3 separate regions of the Homo sapiens genome follow, and regions 1 and 2 are each linked to region 3. The links come from fine-mapping of genetic effects on plasma protein levels. A gene starts in region 3. Each other region holds a variant in brackets. All regions are shown on one strand. Distances are between the middles of the regions. Region 1 has its middle 16 kb from the start of REG1B. Region 2 has its middle 19 kb from the start of REG3A. Region 3 holds the start of REG1B (regenerating family member 1 beta).

What was found. PIP is the chance, under the fine-mapping model, that this variant and not a neighbour inherited with it causes the effect. Protein levels are from antibody-based Olink assays in UK Biobank. Linkage for the fine-mapping came from a reference panel and not from the study's own genotypes, which makes the PIPs less certain.
Region 1: its variant is fine-mapped to the plasma level of the REG1B protein (UK Biobank, PIP above 0.99).
Region 2: its variant is fine-mapped to the plasma level of the REG1B protein (UK Biobank, PIP above 0.99).

What each region holds. Positions count from the first base shown.
Region 1 is chr2:79,099,930-79,108,115 of GRCh38, reverse strand. No RefSeq gene overlaps it. Among named protein-coding and RNA genes, the nearest start is that of REG1B, 16 kb to the right of the region's middle. The variant A/C (reference allele first, on the strand shown) is at 5,073.
Region 2 is chr2:79,137,104-79,145,289 of GRCh38, reverse strand. It overlaps the pseudogene REG1CP. Among named protein-coding and RNA genes, the nearest start is that of REG3A, 19 kb to the left of the region's middle. The variant T/C (reference allele first, on the strand shown) is at 5,039.
Region 3 is chr2:79,083,180-79,091,365 of GRCh38, reverse strand. It overlaps REG1B (regenerating family member 1 beta), which reads left to right and starts at 3,373. Exons shown (of 6, transcript NM_006507.4): 1 at 3,373-3,407; 2 at 3,708-3,817; 3 at 4,436-4,554; 4 at 4,862-4,999; 5 at 5,763-5,874; 6 at 6,083-6,343. The coding sequence starts at 3,754. The coding sequence ends at 6,150.

The DNA of each region.
Region 1 (8,186 bases), 17 kb before region 3:
ATCCTCAATAAAATACTGGCAAAATGAATCCAGCAGCACATCAAAAAGCTTATCCACGATGATCAAGTGGGCTTCATCCCTGGGATGCAAGGCTGGTTCAATATACGCAAATCAATAAATGTAATGCAGCATATAAACAGAGCCAAAGACAAAAACCACATGATTATCTCAATAGATGCAGAAAAAGCCTTTGACAAAATTCAACAACTCTTCATGCTAAAAACTCTCAATAAATTAGGTATTGATGGGACGTATTTCAAAATAATAAGAGCTATCTGTGACAAACCCACAGCCAATATCATACTGAATGGGCAAAAACTGGAAGCATTCCCTTTGAAAACTGGCACAAGACAGGGATGCCCTCTCTCACCACTCCTATTCAACATAGTGTTGGAAGTTCTGGCCAGGGCAATTAGGCAGGAGAAGGAAATAAAGGGTATTCAATTAGGAAAAGAGGAAGTCAAATTGTCCCTGTTTGCAGACGACATGATTGTATATCTAGAAAACCCCATTGTCTCAGCCCAAAATCTCCTTAAGCTGATAAGCAACTTCAGCAAAGTCTCAGGATACAAAATCAATGTACAAAAATCACAAGCATTCTTATACACCAACAACAGACAAACAGAGAGCCAAATCATGAGTGAACTCCCATTCACAATTGCTTCAAAGAGAATAAAATACCTAGGAATCCAACTTACAAGGGATGTGAAGGACCTCTTCAAGGAGAACTACAAACCACTGCTCAAGGAAATAAAAGAGGATACAAACAAATGGAAGAACATTCCATGCTCATGGGTAGGAAGAATCAATATCGTGAAAATGGCCATACTGCCCAAGGTAATTTACAGATTCAATGCCATCCCCATCAAGCTACCAATGCCTTTCTTCACAGAATTGGAAAAAACTACTTTAAAGTTCATATGAATCAAAAAAGAGCCTGCATCGCCAAGTCAATCCTAAGCCAAAAGAACAAAGCTGGAGGCATCACGCTACCTGACTTCAAACTATACTACAAGGCTACAGTAACCAAAACAGCATGGTACTGGTACCAAAACAGAGATATAGATCAATGGAGCAGAACAGAGCCCTCAGAAATAACGCCGCATATCTACAACTATCTGATCTTTGACAAACCTGAGAAAAACAAGCAATGGGGAAAGGATTCCCTGTTTAATAAATGGTGCTGGGAAAACTGGCTAGCCATATGTAGAAAGCTGAAACTGGATCCCTTCCTTACACCTTATACAAAAATCAATTCAAGATGGATTAAAGACTTAAATGTTAGACCTAAAACCATAAAAACCCTAGAAGAAAACCTAGGCATTACCATTCAGGACATAGGCATGGGCAAGGACTTCATGTCTAAAACACCAAAAGCAATGGCAACCAAAGCCAAAATTGACAAATGGGATCTAATTCAACTAAAGAGCTTCTGCACAGCAAAAGAAACTACCATCAGAGTGAACAGGCAACCTACAAAATGGGAGAAAATTTTTGCAACCTACTCATCTGACAAAGGGCTAATATCCAGAATCTACAATGAACTCAAACAAATTTACAAGAAAAAAACAAACAACCCCATCAAAAAGTGGGCAAAGGACATCAACAGACACTTCTCAAAAGAAGACATTTATGCAGCCAAAAAACACATGAAAATATGATCACCATCACTGGCCATCAGAGAAATGCAAATCAAAACCACAATGAGATACCATCTCACACCAGTTAGAATGGCAATCATTAAAAAGTCAGGAAACAACAGGTGCTGGAGAGGATGTGGAGAAATAGGAACACTTTTAAACTGTTGGTGGGACTGTAAACTAGTTCAACCATTGTGGAAGTCAGTGTGGCGATTCCTCAGGGATCTAGAACTAGAAATACCATTTGACCCAGCCATCCCATTACTGGGTATATACCCAAAGGAATATAAATCATGCTGCTATAAAGACACATGCACACGTATGTTTATTGTGGCATTATTCACAATAGCAAAGACTTGGAACCAACCCAAATGTCCAACGATGATAGACTGGATTAAGAAAATGTGGCACATATACACCATGGAATACTATGCAGCCATAAAAAATGATGAGTTCATGTCCTTTGTAGGGACATGGATGAAATTGGAAATCATCATTCTCAGTAAACTATCGCAAGAACAAAAAACCAAACACCACATATTCTCACTCATAGGTGGGAACTGAACAATGAGATCACATGGACACAGGAAGGGGAACATCACACTCTGGGGCCTGTTGTGGGGTGGGGGGAGTGGGGAGGGATAGCATTGGGAGATATACCTAATGCTAGATGACGAGTTAGTGGGTGCAGCGCACCAGCATGGCACATGTATACATATGTAACTAACCTGCACATTGTGCACATGTACCCTAAAACTTAAAGTATAATTAAAAAAAAAAAAAAAAAAGGATCTCACTTGTGGCTACATCCACCATTCCAGAAGGTGCAGGATGTAAATCTTGGCAGTGCCCACTGGTTGCTAATTTTGTAGCCTTGCCTATTATAGATTTCAAAAGATGCCTCAGAGAGACTCGGGGCTCAAATAATTGACACAAGGACAGGGTCACCACAGAGTTTGTCCACTAGGGCAATTACTAGTAGAACTTTGGGGAGTGGGTTTTCTTCAAAACCCTAACTGTAGATCCAGCAGTGTGAGATGCCACCTGTAGAGGGCTGCATAAAAGAGACTCTAACCTCTGATAGCTACTTCCTGGGATGCATCCAGCAAAATCATGGGGGCCCAACCCTCACCCCAATATGTAGAGAAGGTTTGACTTGGAGCCAAAGACGATTATTCTCAAACCTCAAGATTTAATGTTATTTGCTTTGGTGGGAATTGGGCTTATTACAGACTTATTACAGACTTATTATTTATTTTTATTTTCCATTTCTCTCTTTTGGAATGAGGCTGTCCATCCTGTGCCTGTCCCATCACTATATTGTGGAAGTACATAACTTACTTGATTTCACAGCTGGAGAAACATGTGCCTCAGAATGAATCATACTTGACTTTCACACGTATCTGATTTTGATTATATTTAGATGATAATCTGGACCTTAGACTTTTAAGAGGATACTATAATGAGCTAAGACTTTTGGGGCTTTTGGGATGAAATGAAACATTTTGTACCTGAGAAATACATGATTTTTAGGCAGCTAGAATGCTGCAGTTTGAATGTTTGTCTTCTCCAAAGTTCATGTTGAAATTTAATTGCCATTGGAACAATGTTAAGAGGTGGGACTTTTATGTGGTGACCAGGCCATGAGGATTCTAAAGAACAATTCCTCCTTTCAGGAGCACACACACGCGTGCACACACACACACACACACACACACGGGTTTGTGGTGCTAGTGTGTGTGTAAAAGACAAATTAAATTGCAGGTTAAGAATTGGGTGATGTCTTACATTTATTCACTTTTTAAGCTCTTCTTGTGGAGCCTCTGTCCTTGACCATAATCAATGGGTGGTTATGTGTTGAAATCATTCAGAATCCAGATAGCTGGATGAGTTGCATGTGGAAATAAGTAGAGGAAAATCAGTATTTTGGGAACTCAGGGAATGGCCCTGGAGCTAAACTGCATGTCTGAATCTAGTGCCAACACATAGTAGCTGTTTGGTTTTTTAAAATTTTATTTTCGGTTCAGGGGTACATGTGCACGTTTGTTATACAGGCAAATTGTGTGTTGCAGGAGTTTGATGTATGGATTGTTTCATCACCCAGGTAATATGCATAGTATCTGATAGGTAGATTTTCAATCCTTACTTTCCTTCCACCTTCTATCTTCAAGTAGGCCCTGTGTCTGTTGTTCCTTTCTTTGTGTCCATATGTACTTGATGTTTGGCTCACACTTTTAAGTGAGATCATGCAATATTTGGTTTTCTATTCCTGTGTTAGCAGCTGTTTTAATCTTGCAGGAGTTACCTAGCCTTTCTCTTGCCTTCATTTTTTTTATGTGTCAAATATGGTTCGTAGCAGCACCTACATTATTAGGTTTTCATGGGGATTAAATGGTTTCTAATTAGGCAAGCATTTAGAATTGTGCCTGGCATAGACAGCATGTGACAAAAATTAATGTTTAAAAATCAGAGGTTTCTTGTGAAGCAGAATAGGCTAACTTATAAGTAGGTTTCCTTACACCTGCAGAACACAGCAGACCATGGAATGTCCTTGCTGCATTTGTTATTTGTTCAGCTCCTTTCTTTTCCAGTCTAAAGTTTGCAGACAGGCTATTATTTACATGCCTGCCAAGGATTTAAACAAGTGGGAGATTATCTCTCTCTCATATGTCTAAAATCTCAATTCCAAAGGTGGAAAGCAGAGAATACCTCTTGGAAAATGGCAAACAGCACCTAGAATCAGCCATAGCCTTGGAATTTTCTTGGCGTTATTGGAGGCTTATCAGAAAGTTTCCCCACTTAAGGACATATTAACACTAGATTTCCAGGAGACTGCTTTCCATATACAAGAAGACTGCTGGAGGGAATATGATGGGAAAGACCTGAAATGAGCTTCTTGGAATCTTGTAAAACTATGTCACAGGAAGGGCCTTGTTTTCTGGAGGACAATGAGATAAACCTTGAACAGATAGGAAATACAGTTTATATGCAAAAGGCATCACTTTGGAACAAAGTAGCTGCCAGGTAAAGGTATCAGTTTTATTAGCTTGCACGCGGAATTTGGCCAGTCACATGTGCAAGCAATAAAGTTAATAACATCTCAATGTGTTTCCAGATACTGGTAGCAATAAAGATTTTTATGGGAATACTGTGTCAATTGTTGATACAGTATTGAACTGAATCTCTCTCTGTTTTATATCATGCCAGTTACAGTGTATTTCATTATGTATTTTAAAGTATTAGATCTTTTATATCTGGAATGTTTTTGCTTGCTTTAAGTCTTCTTGAAGTAAATAAGAACTCTCATATTTAAAAAAATTATGCCACAAAGAATTTTTTTAATTTTAAACTATTAATTACTTGTTCATTTTTTTTGCAAGATACACTTATTATGGTACCAAGTATACTGGACTCCTACCTACTGTATCTTTT[A/C]TGAAGTCTGAAGAATATGATTGACTTTCTTATTTATAAGAAAAAAGATATCTTAACCTGGCTATAAGCTTGTAAGATAGCATAAATATTTTTACTAAATGCAGAAATAAGTTGGATTAACATAACAAACACCTATGAACCTGCCAAGTAGAATAAATAATGTCAACGTTTGTCATCTTTGTTTAATATTATTAGTTTTATTTAAAAAGTTATAAATTCTCCAGGCAAATACTGTGATAGATTTTTCTTTTTATTCTGTGTATATGCAACAATGTAGCAAAAATTATCTCATCAATATCTGACAACTTGATCTTGGACTTCCCCGTCTCAAAAAATTAGAAAAATAAATTTGTGCTCATTAAAAATTACCCAATCTCAGTTATTTCATTCTGTTATAGCACACAAAATGAACTAAAACTAGAAGAATGCCAACCTGGTATCTATCACCTCTTCCTCACTAATGACATAAGCAAGAATTTACATGATGTGTCAATGTATCACAATAAAGAACATTTTATTACTATTATTATTATTACATACATTTTTTTTTTGAGACGGAGTCTCACTCTGTCGCCCCGGCTGGAGTGTAGGGGTGCTATCTCAGCTCACTGCAAGCTCCGCCTCCTGGGTTCAGGCCATTCTCCTGCCTCAGCCTCCCGAGTAGATGGGACTACAGGTGCCCACCACCACAACCGGCTAATTTTTTGTATTTTTAGTAGAGACGGGGTCTCACCATGTTAACCAGGATGGTCTCGATCTCCTGACCTCGTGATCTGCCCGCCTCTGCCTCCCAAAGTGCTGGGATTACAGGCATAAGCCACCGTGCCTGGCCAACATTCTCCTTTTTAAATACAGAAGGCACAAAACTAGCAGAATATAAATTGCTGTAACATATGAGGCTGAGGAATAGAAGTGGAATTTGGAAACCCAAACTGGATTTTCTCTCAAGTGAAAGGATCCTTTCCTCAGAGGATCAACGACATGTCTCCAAGGCAAGGTAAATTCACAAATCTAAATTAAACCGATAACGTATTTCTGGCTATGAAATGACAAAAAGTGTAAGACAGATAACCATATAACCTTTAAACAAATGTCATTATGCCAATTGAGGAGATGAATATTAACCAGGTTTCAGAAGAATGAAGATAGTAAGAAAATCAAGGAAAAATTATCAAGTTTATCTTCTCTAAACTCATGTCGACATTTAATTGAACATTGTAATCATTTTTACATGGACCTTTAAGAAGTGATTGAGCCATGAAGGCTCTGTTCTCATAGGTGAAGTTAATACCATTATAAAATGGCTAGTTTCATTCCCTTTTGCTTCTTTGCCCTTCAGCCTTTTGCCATGTCATGAAACAGCAGGAAGGCCCTTGAAAGATTCCAGCTTCTTGATAATGAACTTTTAAGTCTCTGGAACTGTCAGAAAATAAATTTCTGTTTATTATAAATTATCCAGTCTCAAGTGTTTTCTTCTAGTTGTAGAAAATGGACTAAGATAGAAATTTGTACCAGAAGTGGGGTTGTTACTATAAAAAACACCTAAAAATGTGTGTCAGATTTGGAACTGAGTAATGGGCAGAGGGCAGAAGAGTTTAGAGGATCAGGCTAGAAAAAAGCCTAGATTGCTATTAACAGAGTGTTAAGGGCTATGCTGGTGAGGGCTCAAGAAGAGGAGAGCTATAGGCTAAACCTAAATCAGCAGTGAGATTACTTAAGTGGTTTTCAAGTGAATAATAGCAATATGAATGGTAGAGGTAATTCTGATGAGATCCCAGATGGAATTGTAGAACATGGTATTGCACAATGACCCGAGGGTTATCCTTTTTACCAAGAGGCAACAAACATGGCTGAATTGTCTTTGTGTCCCAACATTTTACGAAAGGCAGAATTTAAGAACCACAAGTTAGGATATCTGGTGGAAGAAATATCTAAGTAGCAAATTGTTAAGGATGCTGCATGACTTTTTTAAACTGTCAATAGTAAAACTTGAGAAAAGGGGAAAAAATTAAATATGAAATGTACATTGAAAAGGAAGTAGAAAGTAAAGATTTGGAAAATTCTTAGTCTGGCTGTGTTTTAAATAAAGAAAAGGCATATTCAAAAAAGAAAAACCTAGGGTGTGGCCAAATTTTGATAAGGAGATTAGCTCCCATCACAAACCCAGACAGAATGCCAATGCCTGGAGAACAGAATTAGATCAAAAGAGGACTCTTGAGAGCCCTTGGGACCTTGTTACTCACTACTCAGGGCTTCCTCAAATCTCTGATTCCTGCATTCCTAAGCAGCTCTTTTAAGCCATCTCAGAAATGGCTTAACGAAGCCCAGATGTGGTGCTGGCCATCACTCCAGAAGGCACAGGGCACAAGTTTTGATGGTGTCCATAGCATGTTAATTCTCCAGGATTGCTGACTGTAGGAGCTAGATTTCAAAAAATGTGTCAGGGAGCCTCAGGGCTCAAAGAGAGAACTGACACAGGTGCAAGGCCACCACAGAGATTACCCACTAGGACAATTCCTAATGAAACATTAGTTGGGGGGTTGCTAGGCAAATAGCTAAACATAAGCAGGAGGGAAGAACTCATGACAAAAGGGAGGTTTGAAAAATTTTACACCCCAGAGAATACCTAAAACAGGCATGCTAAATATAAGCCAAAAAGAGGAAATAAACTCTCTGTTCTCTATTTTCCTTCAATACATTCTCTTTTTTGGTTAAATCAATCGCTTGGCAGAATTCTTCCTCCAGTTAAAACTAATCAAAAATTCCTGCACTTCCCAGTAACAGTTGGAAGCCCCAGCTGCAGCGAACTTTGGGGATAATATTCCAGCCTGTGAGAGCTGCTGCATTGGTTGCTCCCAGAAAAGCCATGGAGGCCTAACCCCTGCCCCAGTCTGTGCTGATAGTGGGACTTGAAGTCAAAACAAAAAATTCTCAAATGTCGGGATTTAATGTTGTTGTTGTTGTTTTTTTTTTTTTGGTGGGGGTTTGGACTTAGTGGGAGCCTGTTAATTCTTTTTATTTTCTGTTGCTCTTTTGTTATGGAATTGTCTATCCTATGCCTGTCCCACCATATATTTTAGAAACATATAATTTGTTTGATTTCACAGCTGGAGG
Region 2 (8,186 bases), 54 kb before region 3:
CACTCTCACCACTTCTCTTCAACATAGCACTCAAAGTCCTACCCAGAGCAATTAGACAAGAGAAACAAGCAAAAGCATTGAAACTGGAAAGGAAGAAGTTACATTCTCTCTTTTTGTGAATGACATGATCTTACATTTAGAAAACCCTACAGACTACATTAAAAAATACTATTAGAAGTAATAAAATAATTTGATAAGGTTTCAGGTTACTAAATAAACATACAAAAATTAGTAGCATTTTTACACTAACCATAAACTCTCCTAAAGGAAATCAAGAAAACAACCATATTTCCAGTAACTACAAAAATACTTAGGAATAAATTTAACCAAAGAAGTAAAAGATCAGTGCAATAAAAATAATAAAACTGGTATCAAAGAAATTGAATAAAACACAAATAAATGAAACTTATCCCATGTTCATAGACTGGATAAGTTAATATTGTTAAAGTCTTCATACTACCCAAAGCAATCTACAGTTTCAATGCAATTCCTGTTGAATTTCTAATAACATTTTTCACAAAAGTAGGAAAAATAATCTTAAAATTGAGATAGACCCACAAAAGACCCCAGATATTCACAGCAATCTTGAGCCAAAAGAATAATGCTGGAAACATCATACAACCTGATTTCAAAATATACTACAAAACTATATTAATCAAGACAGCATTGTAGTAGCATAAAAACAAATCCATAGACCAATGGAGCAAAATAGCCCAGAAATAAATTCACATATTTACAGTCAATGGAGTTTTTAAAGATGCCAAGAATAGATAATGTTGATAAACAGTTTCTTCAATAAATGGTGTTGTGAAAGCTTAACGTGCATACATAAAATAATAAAATTAGACGCTTATCTCATACTGTACAGAAAAATAAACTCAAAATGGGTAAAGACTTGAACATAAGACTGGGAACTCTAAAACTACTACAAGAAAACTTAGGGGGAAATGTCACAACATTGTCCATGTTATGACTGTATGACAAAATCAACTGGAAAATCATTTTTTGGTTATAATAGAAAAAACGCAAGGGTAAAAAAGCAGAAAGAGACAAATGAGATTGTATCAAAATAAAAACTTCTGCACAGGAAAGGGAACAAATATTAGAGTGAAGGGACTACCTACAGAATGGGAGAAAATATTTACAAAGCATACATATGATAAGGGGTTAATATTCAAACTGTATGAGGAACTTAATAACTGGCAAAAAAATACCCCAATTTAAAAAATGGTCAAAGGACCTGAACAAACTTTTCTCCAAAGAAGATACAAATATCTAGAGGTATATGAGGAAAACGGCTTAACATCAGTTATCACTAGGAAAATTCAAATTAAAACCTCAGTGTCATCTCACCTCATACCGTTTACAATGGCTGTAATTAAAAATAAAAGGTAACAGTTGTTGGCAAGAATGCAGGGGAAAGGGGATATTTGTATAGTACTGGTGGTAATGTAAATTGCTATAGCAATTATTCAAAACACTATGGAGATTCCTCAAAAGATTAGAAAAGAATTACTGTATAATCCGGTGATTCCATTTCTGGGGAGATATCCAAAAGAAATGACATCCAATCCCAGCACTTTGGGAGGCCGAGGCGGGCGGATCGTGAGGTCAAGAGATCGAGACCATCCTGGCTAACATGGTGAAACCCCGTCTCTACTAAAAGCCCAAAAAATTACCAGGGCGTGGTGGCGGGCACCTGTAGTCCCAGCTACTCGGGAGGCTGAGGCGGGAGAATGGTGTGAACCCTGGAGGCGGAGCTTGCAGTGAGCCGAGATTGCGCCACTGCACTCCAGCCTGGGCAACAGAGCGAGACTCCTTCTCAAAAAAAGAGAAACGACATCCATATGTCAAGTGATATCTTCACTCCCATGTTCACTTAAACCTTACAATAGTTGAGATGGAGTCAAATTCGGTGTCAATCAACAGATGAATGGATAAAGAAAAGTATATACATACAAAGTGGAGTGTTATTCAGCCTTAAAAATAGAGGAAGTCCTGTCATTTGTGACAACATGAATTAACCTGGAGGATGTTATATTAAGTGAAATAATCCAAGCACAGAAAGACAAATACTGCATGATCTCACTACTATGTAAAATCTAAATATCTATATATAAATGGCAAAATGTCATGCTGAGATGAAAAATTCTTTAAAAGTTTAGCTCCCTTATTGGAAGATGAATAATGTGTTTCTCAAAAACCATTTTTTTTGGTATGAAATGCCGTGGTCCAATGAGTCTCTTTTTACACCAGCAACACGTATGACCCATGACCAGGACCCCTTTATTGACTCTCAGTATTCTTTTCAAAGTACACATGATTCTGTTTCTTCATTCATTGTACTTGAAATGTAACTAGAGATTTAGTCCAGTTATAATTGTATTAAAATATTTACATTGATATTTGGAGATGCATATATAAAACATTTCAGCTTTGGCTGAAAAAATGTTGCACTGAGGAACATAAACATTGTGTGGAGTTGAGGTATTTAGAAACCAAGAGGTATTCTATCAAGAAAATGTTAGCCAGAGATGCTGTCTGTAGAATGTGCATGTAATGTCTTAGGTGCTACTTGAAATTTATCATAGGGATGAGAAAAGTTTTCCAGTTGTATAATGCTTTTGGTGCATTCCTTCTTCAATTCCATCATTTTAAAGATTTTCAAAAGCTTATCATCTCTCTGCTGCCAACTTCCCACAGACCTTTCCTCAGACAATTAAATCCACACAAATCATCTTTTTCTAAAAGTCATTGACTACTCTAAGTGTGAAGAGCCCTCTTGTTTTATGGAGAGAGAAAATAATGTTCAGAGAAGAGTTGAGAGACAATTGTCTCACGTTTCTCCACTTCTTGCAAGCAGAGGCACTTACTGCCATTTTTTCTAGACTATCTTTCAAGAATGTTTGGGTAGTGAAAAACCTTTTTTTTTTTTGTTTGTTTTTTTGAGATGGAGTCTTGCTTTGTTATGCAGGCTGGAGTGCAGTGGCGCGATCTCGGCTCACTGCAACCTCCGCCCCCCAGGTTCAAGCGATTCTCCTGCCTCAGCCTCTCAAGTAGCTGGGATTACAGGCACGCTGTAATTTTTGTATTTTTAGTAGAGACGGGGTTTCACCATCTTGGCCAGGCTGGTCTTGAACTCCTGACCTCATGATCCACCTGCCTCGGCCTCCCAAAGTGTTGGGATTACAGGCGTGAGCCACCGCATCCAGCTGTGAAAAACCTTTAAAAGTAGAGACAGCATCTTCCTCCAGAGCAAAGGGTAGGTTTGCTTATAGTCTTGAAAGTTTCCATTCATAGTGAAGACAGGCATACTTACTCCCAGGTACAATAAAGAAGTCTCCCTCTGAAGCAAAGGGTAGGCTTGCTTGTTGCCCATTATAAGTGATTCAGGTTCGTTCCCTAAACTCTCATAATGTAATTACAGGGGCCATTTCTCCCCTGTAACATAACCCACTCAATGTGAAGGCATCTATCTGGCCCATCGATGTCACCTCCATGAGACTTAGAGTAAGGGAACCTAGGGTGAGTGTGCTGCTGCTTGTTCTGCTTACTGTACCATGAGTAATAAAAGTCCTTTGTCTTTTGCCAATCTCAAACTGTGGAAGTCTACCTTACCTTGCAAGTAGGGTAAAAATCTCAGAACCTTTATAATTCTTGACATGAAGTTAAATGATTTTTGCTTGCAGCACATTGGAAGAAAACAACAACCTCAGCTTTCTTTTTCTCTCTCTCTTTTTTTTTTTTGAAATGGAGTCTTGCTCTGTCACCCCAGCTGGAATGCAGTGGCACATCTCAGCTCACTGCAACCTCTGCCTCCCGGGTTGAAGCGATTCTCCTGCCTCAGCCTCCCAAGTAGCTGGGATTACAGGTGCCTGCCACTGTGCCTGGCTAATTTTTGTATTTTCAGTAGAGATGGGGTTTTGCCATATTGGCCAGGCTGGTCTCGAACTCCTGACCTCATGATCCGCCCACCTCGGCCTCCCAAAGTCCTGGGATTACAGGTGTGAGCCACTGTACCCGGCCCAGGAACAGCTCAGCTTTCTAAGAATGTCTCCCCAAAGAAAACCTGAAGGTAAAACAAATGTCCTTCCAAACATTTGCAAACATCAAATACTGTGGAGTTCAAGAGGATCACAGATTCGGGAATCTTGTAAGAAAATAAGTATGGAAGAAAATCAACCAGAGCACTACTAAAATTTGGGGTTATACAGTCAGAGTTTTTATTAGCCTATCCTCAACAACACTTACAAAAATAAATTTTAGGATTTTTGTTTGTTTCTTTAAGAATTTATCTATATTTCTAAAGCCATCTTCGTAACAACTTTTAAAATGCTGACCATTTAATAGTTGGAATCTTTGAACATTTTGAGTATAAAGTGCCAGAGAATACAATTATAGGTTATTTAACTATGGGGATATGTTCTAAAAAACGCATCCTTAGGTGATTTCATTTTCACGTGAACATCAAAGACTGTACTTACACAAACCTAGATGGGATAGCTACAAAGCGTCAGTAGCATAAGACTTTATTTGAAAATGTTCTGGCTGGGCGCGGTGACTCACGCCTGTAATCCCAGCACTTTGGGTGGCCGAGGCGGGTGGATCACGAGATCAGGAGATCGAGACCATCCTGACTAACACGGTGAAACCCCGTCTCTACTAAAAACACAAAAAATTAGCCGGGCGTGGTGGCAGGTGCCTGTCGTCCCAGCTACTCGGGAGGCTGAGGCAGAAGAATGGAGTGAACCCGGGAGGCGGAGCTTGCAGTGAGCACTCCAGCCTGGGCGACAGAGCAAAACTCCGTCTCAAAAAAAAAAAAAAAAAGAAAAAAAGAAAAGAAAATGTTCTTGGCCTAAGAAGAGTCCCAAGGGCCATTCTGACTTGGGGCAGGAAGGTGAAATGTTTTATGGGGCTTTAGCAAGGGTACTTCAGCCACCATCAAGGATAGAGGGACTGTTCCTGAGGATTAGCAGTCATAAATTGAGTAATTTGAATTTAATCAAAAGATATGAAGATAAATCGTTAGGGGATGAAG[T/C]ATTATGCAAGTGGGGATTAGTTGGAGGAGGGGGACATTAGCTGAAAGGGCATGAACATGAAAGTCCAGAGGAAATGTCTTAGGTATGAAGCCTTTTGATTCTTTCATGTGGGAAATAGAGTAATTGTTCCCCTTATACAAGTTTGAGTGAGGTTCATCGCAGAGGAGCATGAATTATTTGCCATGCTGTGCTATGCAGAATTATGACCCCCATGACCCTTGATGTTATGTAATGTGTGCCCTATGAATGTGAGCAGAACCTGTAAATAGGATGAGATTGAAAAACCACAACTATGTTATATTACATGGAAAAAGGGATTCTTGAAGATACAATGAAGGTTACTAATTCATTGACCTTGTATCAATAAGAAAGCAGGTTTTGGGAGATTCCTGGAGGGGCCCAGTCTAATCACGTGAGCCATTTGAAAGCAGATAATTTTCTCTGACTGGCAGCATAAGGGGAAGTCAAGAAATTCAAAGGCCAAAAAGAATTCACTGTCCTGTTGCTAGCTTAGAAGATGGAGAGGTTCTTGTACCAAGGAATCTAGCTGAGACTGGCACCTAAGCTGATAGCCAGCAAGGAAGTGGGAACCTCAGTGCTACAACTCTACAACTACAAGGAACTGAATTCAGTCAATAATCTGAATGAGAGTGAAAGTTTGTCACACAGCCAAGTTAAACTAATAAACTGACTTTACAGGGGAAAAACATATATGGGGATTAGTCTGGAATCCTCTTGTGAGTTATAATTACCTTCTCCAAAGATCAAAGACCTGGTTCCTCTAAAATTTTAATGAACAGATCTTAACCTATCTTCTGGTGCATTATAAGGCTATTTTAATCTATGCTAAGGAGACAACATGAAGGAAAATTCTTAGGTCTGGCCCTATTGTGTTCTTTAATTGGCTAAGTAGAGAAAATGCCAATGTTGAAAAGAACCAATAGGAAATTCTACTGGATGGTAGGATCAGAAGGCAAGCCAGCAAATCCAGTAAGGGAGATTCTCAGAAAGAACCTGGAGCTCCTTTTGCAAAAGATAGAGAGTGATCTTGATGGTTTTAAAAGTGTGCTCAACAGAGGAAGGAAAGCATAGGCTTTTCAGCTACTTGTGGGACAGTCCAAATTGAAATGCATGAATGGTTTGAGAAGTACATAAAGGTTATAACAGGGTGATGCAGGCAGTGGTCTTGTCAGGAAATGGACAGTGCAGAAGGACTGACCATACATGGACTGACAGAACCTGCAAGTGGAGGGTGCTCAGAGACCAAAACAAACAAACAACAACAACAACAGCAACAACAACAGTATATTAGACTACGAAGGAGAAAAAAAGAAGAATTGAGTTTTAGCTCTGCTTTCTTCCATAGTACAGTATTGGAAAAGTCAATTAAGTTACCAATATTTTAAACTCTATTTGCCCCACTGCTCCAAACAGGGATGCTCCATAACCATTCAGCAGCTCCCTTCTCCCTGTGTCTCAAAGACGGCCCTACTCCAGGTTCTCACTCTCTCTGCCTCTACTACTGCTGGCCTAGCCTGCATAACAGCTGCCAAGATTCCTGGAAGGTCTCAGCTGCTTGCTGGATCTTCAGGGCTGCAGGATAGGACATCTGGTTTCTGCTGAGCAAGGGCAAGGTCTGCCTTGAACTTGGAAAGGTTTCCAGTTTAGGGGAAGGGACTTCATCTGTGGCCATTCCCAGGATATGCCAGGAAGAGCTCCTCTTGATGCCAGAACCTCTTACTGTCAATGCCCTCTGTAGAACCGCTGTCTCTCACTCCTTGCTCCACCCCGGCTTAAATACTGTGGCTCTTCTCTCAGATCCTGTTATACATCTCTACCATTACCTAGCCTGAAAAGCCACCTCAGATTCAGCCAACAAGTAAGTGGGCATTACAGGAGAAGGGTACCTTTCACAAGGGCTGTAATCTAAAATCTTGGGGAAGATACAGCGTCATCTGTCCAAGAGGTGTCAGCAGTAACGAAGCCTCAGTAGAAGCCAAAGTTATTTTGGATTACTGAGCCTGTATAGTTTCCAGATTCTCAAGAGAAATATATGGGAATGTAGATATCTCAGAGGACCTTCCTGCTGTCAGGAATTCAGAGGAGGAAATAAGGAAGGTAATAGGTGCTCTGCTCTCATTCTCTCAAACCCTCTTCCCTGTGTTTTCCTATAGAGATTGCTGATTTGCTCCTTAAGCAAGAGATTCACTGCTGCTCAGCATGGCTCAGACCAACTCATGCTTCATGCTGATCTCCTGCCTGATGTTCCTGTCTCTGAGCCAAGGTGAGATTGTTTTCCCCACACATACCTCCCACAACCCCAGCCCTGAAGCCCTCACTCTATCCTCATGCATATGAGTTCACTTGAGAAAAAGCAGAGTCAAGTTCAGGGGTTGTCTTGTGTTGTTCAGTGATATTTATTGCTGATCTCATCCCATTCAAAAACATCCTGACCTCCCTAAGGAGTTAGAGATGGAACTTAGCATAACCCTTTATCAGTGACCACTGCAGTTGGCATTGGTTTGTCATATTAACACTACTCATGATGGGGGGGTTGAGGATGTCTGTTTGTAGACAGTCATTAGTGGAATGGGGAACTGAGGGGAGCTTTGTGTGTAGAGAAACTGGACAGGCTTGAGAAAGAAGCCTCAGTCCTTCAAGGAAGAAAAAGCCATAAGTAAAAGGGACAATGGGGACACTTTTCATGAGCCTATTCATTGTGTGCTCTTGTCTTGAGCAAAGACATCTTGAGAGCCTATAGGTAAGATGCAGAAGGGCAGAAGTGACCAATCGCTTCGTGACCTATAGGATCCTTCTATTCCTATAAAGAATCCTCAGAAGCTCCTACCTCATATTTTAGCCTTTACCTTGCCCTGAGGGTCTTTCTTAATTGTCTCTCTTTTCCCAGGACAGGAGGCCCATGCTGAGTTGCCCAAGGCCCAGATCAGCTGCCCAGAAGGCACCAGTGCCTAAGGCTCCCACTGCTACTACTTTAATGAAGAGCATGAGACCTGGGTTTATGCAGATGTGAGTGAGGAGAGCAGTGTGGGAAGGGAGGCTCACGAAGGGAGGGGAAGCTGCCACTCTCCAGTGTGTTCAGTGGCTGATATGAGATGAGACTAATCCCCTCCCTATCCAATCATCAGC
Region 3 (8,186 bases):
CTGTTATTCACATGCCTGCCAAAAGTTTTAAACAAAAGAGAGATTCTGTCTCCATAATAAGTCTAAAATCTGTTAAAAGGTGGAAAACAGGGAACAGCAGATAGAAGATGGCCAATAGCGCTAAAAATAAGCCATAGTCTTGAAACTCTCTAAGCTTTATTGAGGCGTATCAAGAAATTGCCCCCATTTGGGGATATACTAACACTAGTTATCCAGTTTACCCCTTTCCACCTATGTGAAGACTAACAGAAGAAATAGATAGGAAAGGCCTAAAATCAGCTTCTTAGAACTTTGTAAAACTAGTTCAGGGGACAGGACCTTCAGAATCCTGAGGACAAGGAGATAAATCTTAAAGGATTGGGAAATATGGCTTCCTTGACAAAGGCATCATTTTGGAACCAAAGTGGCTGCCAGTAAATGTCCTCAATTTTACTACCTGGCCTGTGGAATTTGGTCAGTAACCTATGTGAGCAATAACGGTTAGTTATCTAAACGGGCATACAGCTATTGGGGCAATAAACATTTTATGAGAGTTGCGTCAACTGTTATTTGTTTTAAAATGCTTTCATATCGTGCTAGCCACAATGTGTTTTATTATATATTTGAAAGTATTAGATCTTTTGTACCTGAAAAGTCATTGTCTAGTTGAAGTCTTCTTGATGTAAAGAAAAACTCTCATTTAAAAAATTACCACAAATAATTTTTTTGTATTAATTTTTAAAAATTGGCCCAACAGAGTGGCTCCTGCCCATAATACCAGCACTTTGGGAGGCTGAGGCAGGCAGATGGCTTGAGCCCAGGAGTTTGAGACCAGCTTGGGCAACATAGTAAAACACTGTCTCTACTGAAAATACAAAAATTAGCCTGGCGTGGAGGTGTGCGCCTATACTCCCAGCTACTCAGGAGGCTGAGGCGGGAGAACAGTTGAGCCCAGGGGCTCAAGACTGATGTGAGCCTTGTTTGAGCCATTGCACTCTAGCCTAGGTGACAAAGAGAGACCCTGTCTCAAAAATAATGATAATACTACTACTACTACTAATAATTGCTCGTTTGATTTTGGCAAGATAAACTTATGGTAACAAGCATACTAGATTTCTCTTTTCTTCATCCCTTTCTAACTCTGAATAATATGATTGAAATTCTTACAGAAAAAAAAACTCAAATCTTTCTCTGGTTGTAAGCTTTAAAGAAAATTATTTTTAGAAAATGCTGAAATAAATTAGAGTAGTTTGACAAACACTTTTGAACCTGTTAGACTAAACAGTATTAACCTCTGTCATCTATGTTTAAAATGATTATTATAAAGGGACAAAATTATATATTCTCCAGGAAAACAGTAATGTAAACGGTAAAAAGATCCCTGTTCAAAGTTTCCCTTCTTGTTAAAGAATAAATCATAAGTGTTAGAAATAATAGTTTATTTTAAAGACGAACTTCCTTCAAGCCCCCTCGCTTTACGCTAATAACTCTTTGTTAAGCCCTATCTTATATAGCTGTTGAACAGTCACAGGCACGTAGTACATTCCATGTCCTTGTACCTTAACCAAGATATTTGTGTTGGACGTGCTCATAGGTATGTCCTAGTTCACAGCCTGTGCCCCTTCCTTATTTGGAAATATTATTATTTTTGTACCTATTTTAAAAAGTTTTAAATTATTAGCCAATCAGGTTTTAATTTAGATTGTGAGGTCTGGCTCCAGCCAATGGAGACAGGACACAGCAATAGGGACCTCATGCGTAAGGAATAAATATTCTGGTGTCTCTTCATTCTGTGTATGCCCTTGCCATTGTTCCATCTGTGAGGGGCATCCTTTCTGCAGAAATTAAAAATTGCCTCGCTGAGAGAACTTTTTGTCTGAATGCTGACTTTTCCTTGCAGAACTGAGAAACAAACATTTTGCATTTCTAATGAGTATGAAAATTTTTTGTATAGTGTTTTATTACGGATTTATTTTACTTTAAACTACATGTGAATAGATAAAAAAATATAAATAATTAGCTTTTTTAAAGCACATATAAATATTATTAGTTTGTAAATTTTTGCAACTTTTAAAATTCATTTTGTTTATATATGCTTTTGAAATGAGCTCATGTTTATATAAATATATTTAGTTTATTTAATTTAACTCCTGTTAGTATTTCAAAATATATTATTTTGTCATTTATCCCAATTGATATAGCCATCCTTATTTCTGTGAACATTTTGGTTAGTTTTTCAACTGAATTTTAAATTCCAGATTTGCTCTTGTTCCCTGATTCTGAATGGGTATTTAATGGGAATTTCAGTAAGCTTTTAATTTCACATCACTATCTGTAACTTCACAACAACAGACAATTGACTTCAAACCAACAACTTCATATTCCATTACTTTGAGCTTACTTAGGCATCAGCTCCCTGCAGTTCCCACCTGCTTGGACTTTGAGAACATCTGTATCATGCTAGCTACTTATGCTGAAACCTTGCTGGAAACGCTGGCTTAAATTTACGTAACTACTAAACCTTGTGATGTGGTGTGGCTCTGTGTCCCCACCCAAATCTCATCTCAAATTGTAATCCTCATAATCCCCATGTGTGGATTGAGGAACCTAGTGGGAGGTGATTGGATCACGGGAGTAGTTTCCCCCATGCTGTTCTCTTGATAGTGAGTGCATTCTCACAAGATCTGATGGTTTTATAAAGGGCTCTTCCCTCTCCACTCTCTCTTGCTCACCTGCCACCATGTAAGACATGCTTTGCTTCCCCTTCGTCTCCATGATTGTAAGTTTCCTGAGGCCTCCCCATCCTCAGGAAAGTCTGTGAGTCAATTAAACTATGAGTCAATTAAACCTCTTTCCTTTTTAAGTTACCCAGTCTCTGGTATTATCTTTATAGCAGTATGAAAAGGACTAATACACCTTGCCTTCTGAAGTAGGTCTTGAGAGGTTCCTGAACCTGAAAGGGAATGGAGAAATGACTTAAAGCCACCAGCTAATTGGGCTTAATCATTTGGACTCAGTTGACTCTTCCCCTACCCCTACCCATGCCTAAACCAAAGAAAGGATCATCCCACATTTACCTAGCACAAAGAAATCTACTCTTCTGCTCTTTCTAGGACTGCTAAAGGCCATGGGAACTGGACACCTGGATGCTGCAGAGGAAGAGCAAAGCTCAACATCAACTTGGACAGTTTGCCAACCTGTTTGTGGTAAGTTGATGTCATTTGTGACCACTCCTAATGTGTGCCAGGAATAAGCTATTCCTGATGCCAGAATCTCTTACTGTCAGTGCCCTCTGTAGGCCTTCTGATCCTTACTCCTTGCTCCACCCATTGTTTATATCATGTAGTTCTCTCTCAGACCCTGATATAAAGCTCCTACTCTGTCTGACCTGACAAGCCACCTCAAGTGGACAAGGCACTTACCAACAGGTAAAGGGGCATTACAGGAGAAGAGCATGTCTAACGTGGGATTTTCTCTTTTCATTTTGAGGTAGATACAGGGTGATTTTCTGAATAAAAGATCCCAGTAGTAATGAAACTTAAGCAAGACCAAAGCTGATTTCGGGTAATTTGGCCTCTGTTATCCCCAAACCAAAAGAGAAATATCTGGGAGTGTAGCTATCTCAGTGGACCTTTCGGCTCACAGGAATTCAGAGAGGAGAGGATGTTAGAAAGATAACAGGTGCTCTGCTCTCTTCTTCAAACCCTCTTCCCTGTGTTCTCCTACAGAGATTGCTGATTTGCTCCTTAAGCAAGAGATTCACTGCCGCTAAGCATGGCTCAGACCAACTCGTTCTTCATGCTGATCTCCTCCCTGATGTTCCTGTCTCTGAGCCAAGGTGAGATTTTCCCCCACACTTCCCACAACCCCAACTCTGAATTCTTCCCTCCATCCTCATGTATAAGGTTCACTTGAAAAAAAGCAGAGTCAACATCAGGGTTTTTTTATGTTGTTCAGTGATCATTATGGCTGATTTTATCCCATTCAAAAACACCCTCACCTCATTCATGGGTTTGAGACAGAATTTAATAGGACCACTTATAGGTGACCATTGTGGTTGAGTTTATCTGATTGAATCTATATGCGATGGCAGTTTGGGGGATGTTTTTATGTAGTCATTGCTAGGATGGAGAGCTAAGGCAAACGTGTGCAGGGAAACCGAGAGAAACTTGAGAAAGGAGGAAGCCTGGGTCTTTAAAGGCAGAAGCCTCAGCCTCAGAATTAAAGGAAAACGAGGACTCATTTATTTAGCCTATTCATTGTGAGCTCTTGTCTTGAGCAGAGGAAACTAGAGAGAAAAGAGATAGGATGCAGGAGGGCAGAAGTGAGCAATCGCCCCAGTATTCACTGTATCCATATGTTCTTATAAAGGACACCAAGAAGCCCCTAATTCACCTTCCAGCCTTTTCCTTGCCCTGCGATTCTTTCTTAATTATCTCCTTTTTTTTTTCCCCAGGCCAGGAGTCCCAGACAGAGCTGCCTAATCCCCGAATCAGCTGCCCAGAAGGCACCAATGCCTATCGCTCCTACTGCTACTACTTTAATGAAGACCCTGAGACCTGGGTTGATGCAGATGTGAGTGAGGAGAGCAGCAGGGGAAGGGAGGCTTATGAAGGTAGAGGCAGCTGCTAATTTGCAGTGTGTTCTGTGGCTGCAATGAGATAAGATTGATCCCTTCCCTATTCCACCACTGGTCCCAAACTTCCCAATCTACTTTATCCCATCATTTGACACATTCCCAGCACAGAGATGCTGGTGGTCAGTGACAGCATCATCAGGGACATTTCTGTGCTGTCCTTTTTCTGTTACATCCTCTGGAAGGTCTCAGTATATCCCTCACACCTTCCTTCTCCACTGAGTGCTCCATTTTCTTCTCCAACAGCTCTATTGCCAGAACATGAATTCAGGCAACCTGGTGTCTGTGCTCACCCAGGCGGAGGGTGCCTTCGTGGCCTCACTGATTAAGGAGAGTAGCACTGATGACAGCAATGTCTGGATTGGCCTCCATGACCCAAAAAAGGTCAGTCTGCAGCCACCTCTATCTCCTTATAAACATTTTTGAGAGGTAAGAGGGACGTTTAAGGTCTGGCACCGCAATCACCAACTTTTATCTTTTTGTTTGTTTAAATAAAAGCAACCTCTTTATAGATCCTATAATGTATGAGTTGTGAAGTTCAGTGTAGGTAGTTAGAGACATGAGCTGAAGGCTGAATTTTCTGGGCTCTGGGAATTCATGCACCCACTCATTGTGTCTACTTCTAGAAATGCATCTTTATGTACAACTTTTTCCCTATTTTGCTATTGTCTGTCTTGGAAGAGGTCCCTCTGTAGACTATATAGAAAATGAGTAGTGGAGGAGAATCTACTGCTGGCATTTGTTATACATTTTATACAAGTGTATAAAACTGTACAGTATATTATTTAGTTTAACACTATAAACTAAATAATATATCAACGACTACTCTACAGCCAATGTTATGCTGGATATGAGAGTTCTGAGATTCAGGAAAAAAATCAGAAACCACTCTCTTTAATGGGCTTTTATGGGTCTCTGTATCAAATTCTGAACACTTATTATTTGCTGGAAGAGGAGGAGGAATTCGGACATTCTAGAGAAGGAGAAGCTTAGAGCAAAAGCAGAGGAAATGATATGATATTCATGGTGACAACAATGTTTATTCTTTCTGCTATAACTTGGCCTGTTTCTGAGTGTGCACACAGGCCTGGTTATTCTATTGATTTTTGAGTGACCATGGCCCCTGTTCTGGCCCTTCTCCATCTAGAACCGCCGCTGGCACTGGAGTAGTGGGTCCCTGGTCTCCTACAAGTCCTGGGACACTGGATCCCCGAGCAGTGCTAATGCTGGCTACTGTGCAAGCCTGACTTCATGCTCAGGTGAGAGGCAGACAATCTATCCACCTGTTGCCATTTCCTTCCCACTTATCTCTGGGGATGAACATGGGGACTGGGATAGAGGAAAGGTAAGCTCCTTATCTGGAAAATAAAGAAGTATTTCCTCTAGTTTTTTGTTCTGAGTCCTAGGTTGAGGAGGGGCTACACTCCTTCTGATCCTCTATGTCTGACACTTCTCATTGTACCATAGGATTCAAGAAATGGAAGGATGAATCTTGTGAGAAGAAGTTCTCCTTTGTTTGCAAGTTCAAAAACTAGAGGAAGCTGAAAAATGGATGTCTAGAACTGGTCCTGCAATTACTATGAAGTCAAAAATTAAACTAGACTATGTCTCCAACTCAGTTCAGACCATCTCCTCCCTAATGAGTTTGCATCGCTGATCTTCAGTACCTTCACCTGTCTCAGTCTCTAGAGCCCTGAAAAATAAAAACAAACTTATTTTTATCCAGTGTTCTGTCTTCTGCATTTGCTCTTTCTACAGCCCATGCTTGGGTGGTTGGGGTGGGAATGATTGTCACACTCCAGAGCTTGCCATGGCCCATCCACTTGTTAAAACCCCACTCACATTTTATGTATGTCAGGCTTATGAACATGTGGTGGCCTTGTTTATGACAAGATAAAAAGATTAAGATTTCATCCACAACACATGTTAGCATGAACCTAGTGTGAATTACACAAATAATTAAATTGTTGATCCAGTCTGACTGGAGTATTTAATATTCCAGAAGAATTCGCATAGTTGGGGTCTGAGGAGAACACATCTGTTCTTGGTTATGCAATTTGAAGTCATGACTGAAATGATAACTTAAGGAGAATTGTCAGGTCTGCGGTCCTGAGTGCATTAGTGGTACATTTTTGGAGGCCAGCCTGCAAAGTTTGTTAAATGCTACTCCTTGGATGAATGAATAAGTGAATGATCAATTATGTAAATTAAATATACAGGCATACTTAATCATCTCTTTAAATATCCTAACTCTCAATAAAGTTAAATTCTGAAATATTACTCTTAGGACTTTCACAAATTAATTGTGCAGGGACACAGTTCAGCCCATAACATCAATCATATCAATAATAGAGTTAAATGTGATTTGATAACAAAGGAAACAAATTGTCATCCTGGATTAAAGTAACAACAATGAAAACAAGATTCAACTGTATGCTATGTATGAGAGACATGAGTTAAATTAAGACACAAATAGCTTGAAAATAAAAGGAAGGAAATAGACATATCTTGCAAACAGAAACCATAAGAACACTGGTTTCTGTACTGTTACCCAGTGTAATGCCTATATGAGATTGCTGAATTTCTACCCTGTCTGAACTCTGCTTATCTTTAAGAAACAGAATGCCTGTGGTAAAAAGTTTCCTTTATAACTAGTCCAGCTGATACTGGTTAGAATCAAGATCACCATCAAAGGACCTCAGAAAGACATCTGGTTCATTATAATCTCATTTCCATGCTAAATGACACTCCTACCAGCACAATGACAGCTGACAATCACCATGACAATGGCCAGAAGAAGCAATAAAGGTACAAAAAGGAAGCACACTCTGGTTCCTAGGAAGTTCACAACCTATTTCCAGAAAAGACATGAATATTCCTCCCTTTGTTTTTAATGCCCAGTCCTTTCATTGGAGAAACCCTATATTTTAACCACTTTACCCCTCACTAGCAGAGAAGCCAATTTGTGAGTCATGTTCCTGCTTCTCAATTCCATGGCCATCAAATAAATCCTGCAGTGCTTGACACTCACTTTCTGTTTCATGTATTGGCTTTGTGACACCAAATAGGGAAAGACTCCATCTTTTGGGGGACTGGTTTTGTCTGCAATGATACTAATATCAGACATATTTGACTTTAAAGCAAAAATGTTACTTGAGAAGAAAAGGAGTATTTTATAATAATAAAGTAGTTAATTCTTCAGGAAGATGTCTCAAAATACCTGAAACAGGTGGAACCCACTGCAGTGTGACAAAGCCGCTATAACCAGACTGCCCCTCCGGATTCCTCCTCTCTGGGGAGGACATCTCTGAAAGAAAGGCAGCAGCCTCAGTCAGGGGCTTATAGATAAACTCCCATCTCCCTGGGACAGAGCACCTGGGGGAAGGGGCAGCTGTGGGCCAAGCTTCAGCAGACTTAACCTTTCCTGTCTGCTGGCTCTGAAGAGAGCAGCGGGTCTCCTCGCACAGCACGCAAGCTCTGCTAAAGGACAGATTGCCTTCTCAAGTGGGTCCCTTACTCCAGTGCCTGATGACTGGGAGATACCTCCCAGCAGGAGTTGACAGACACCTCA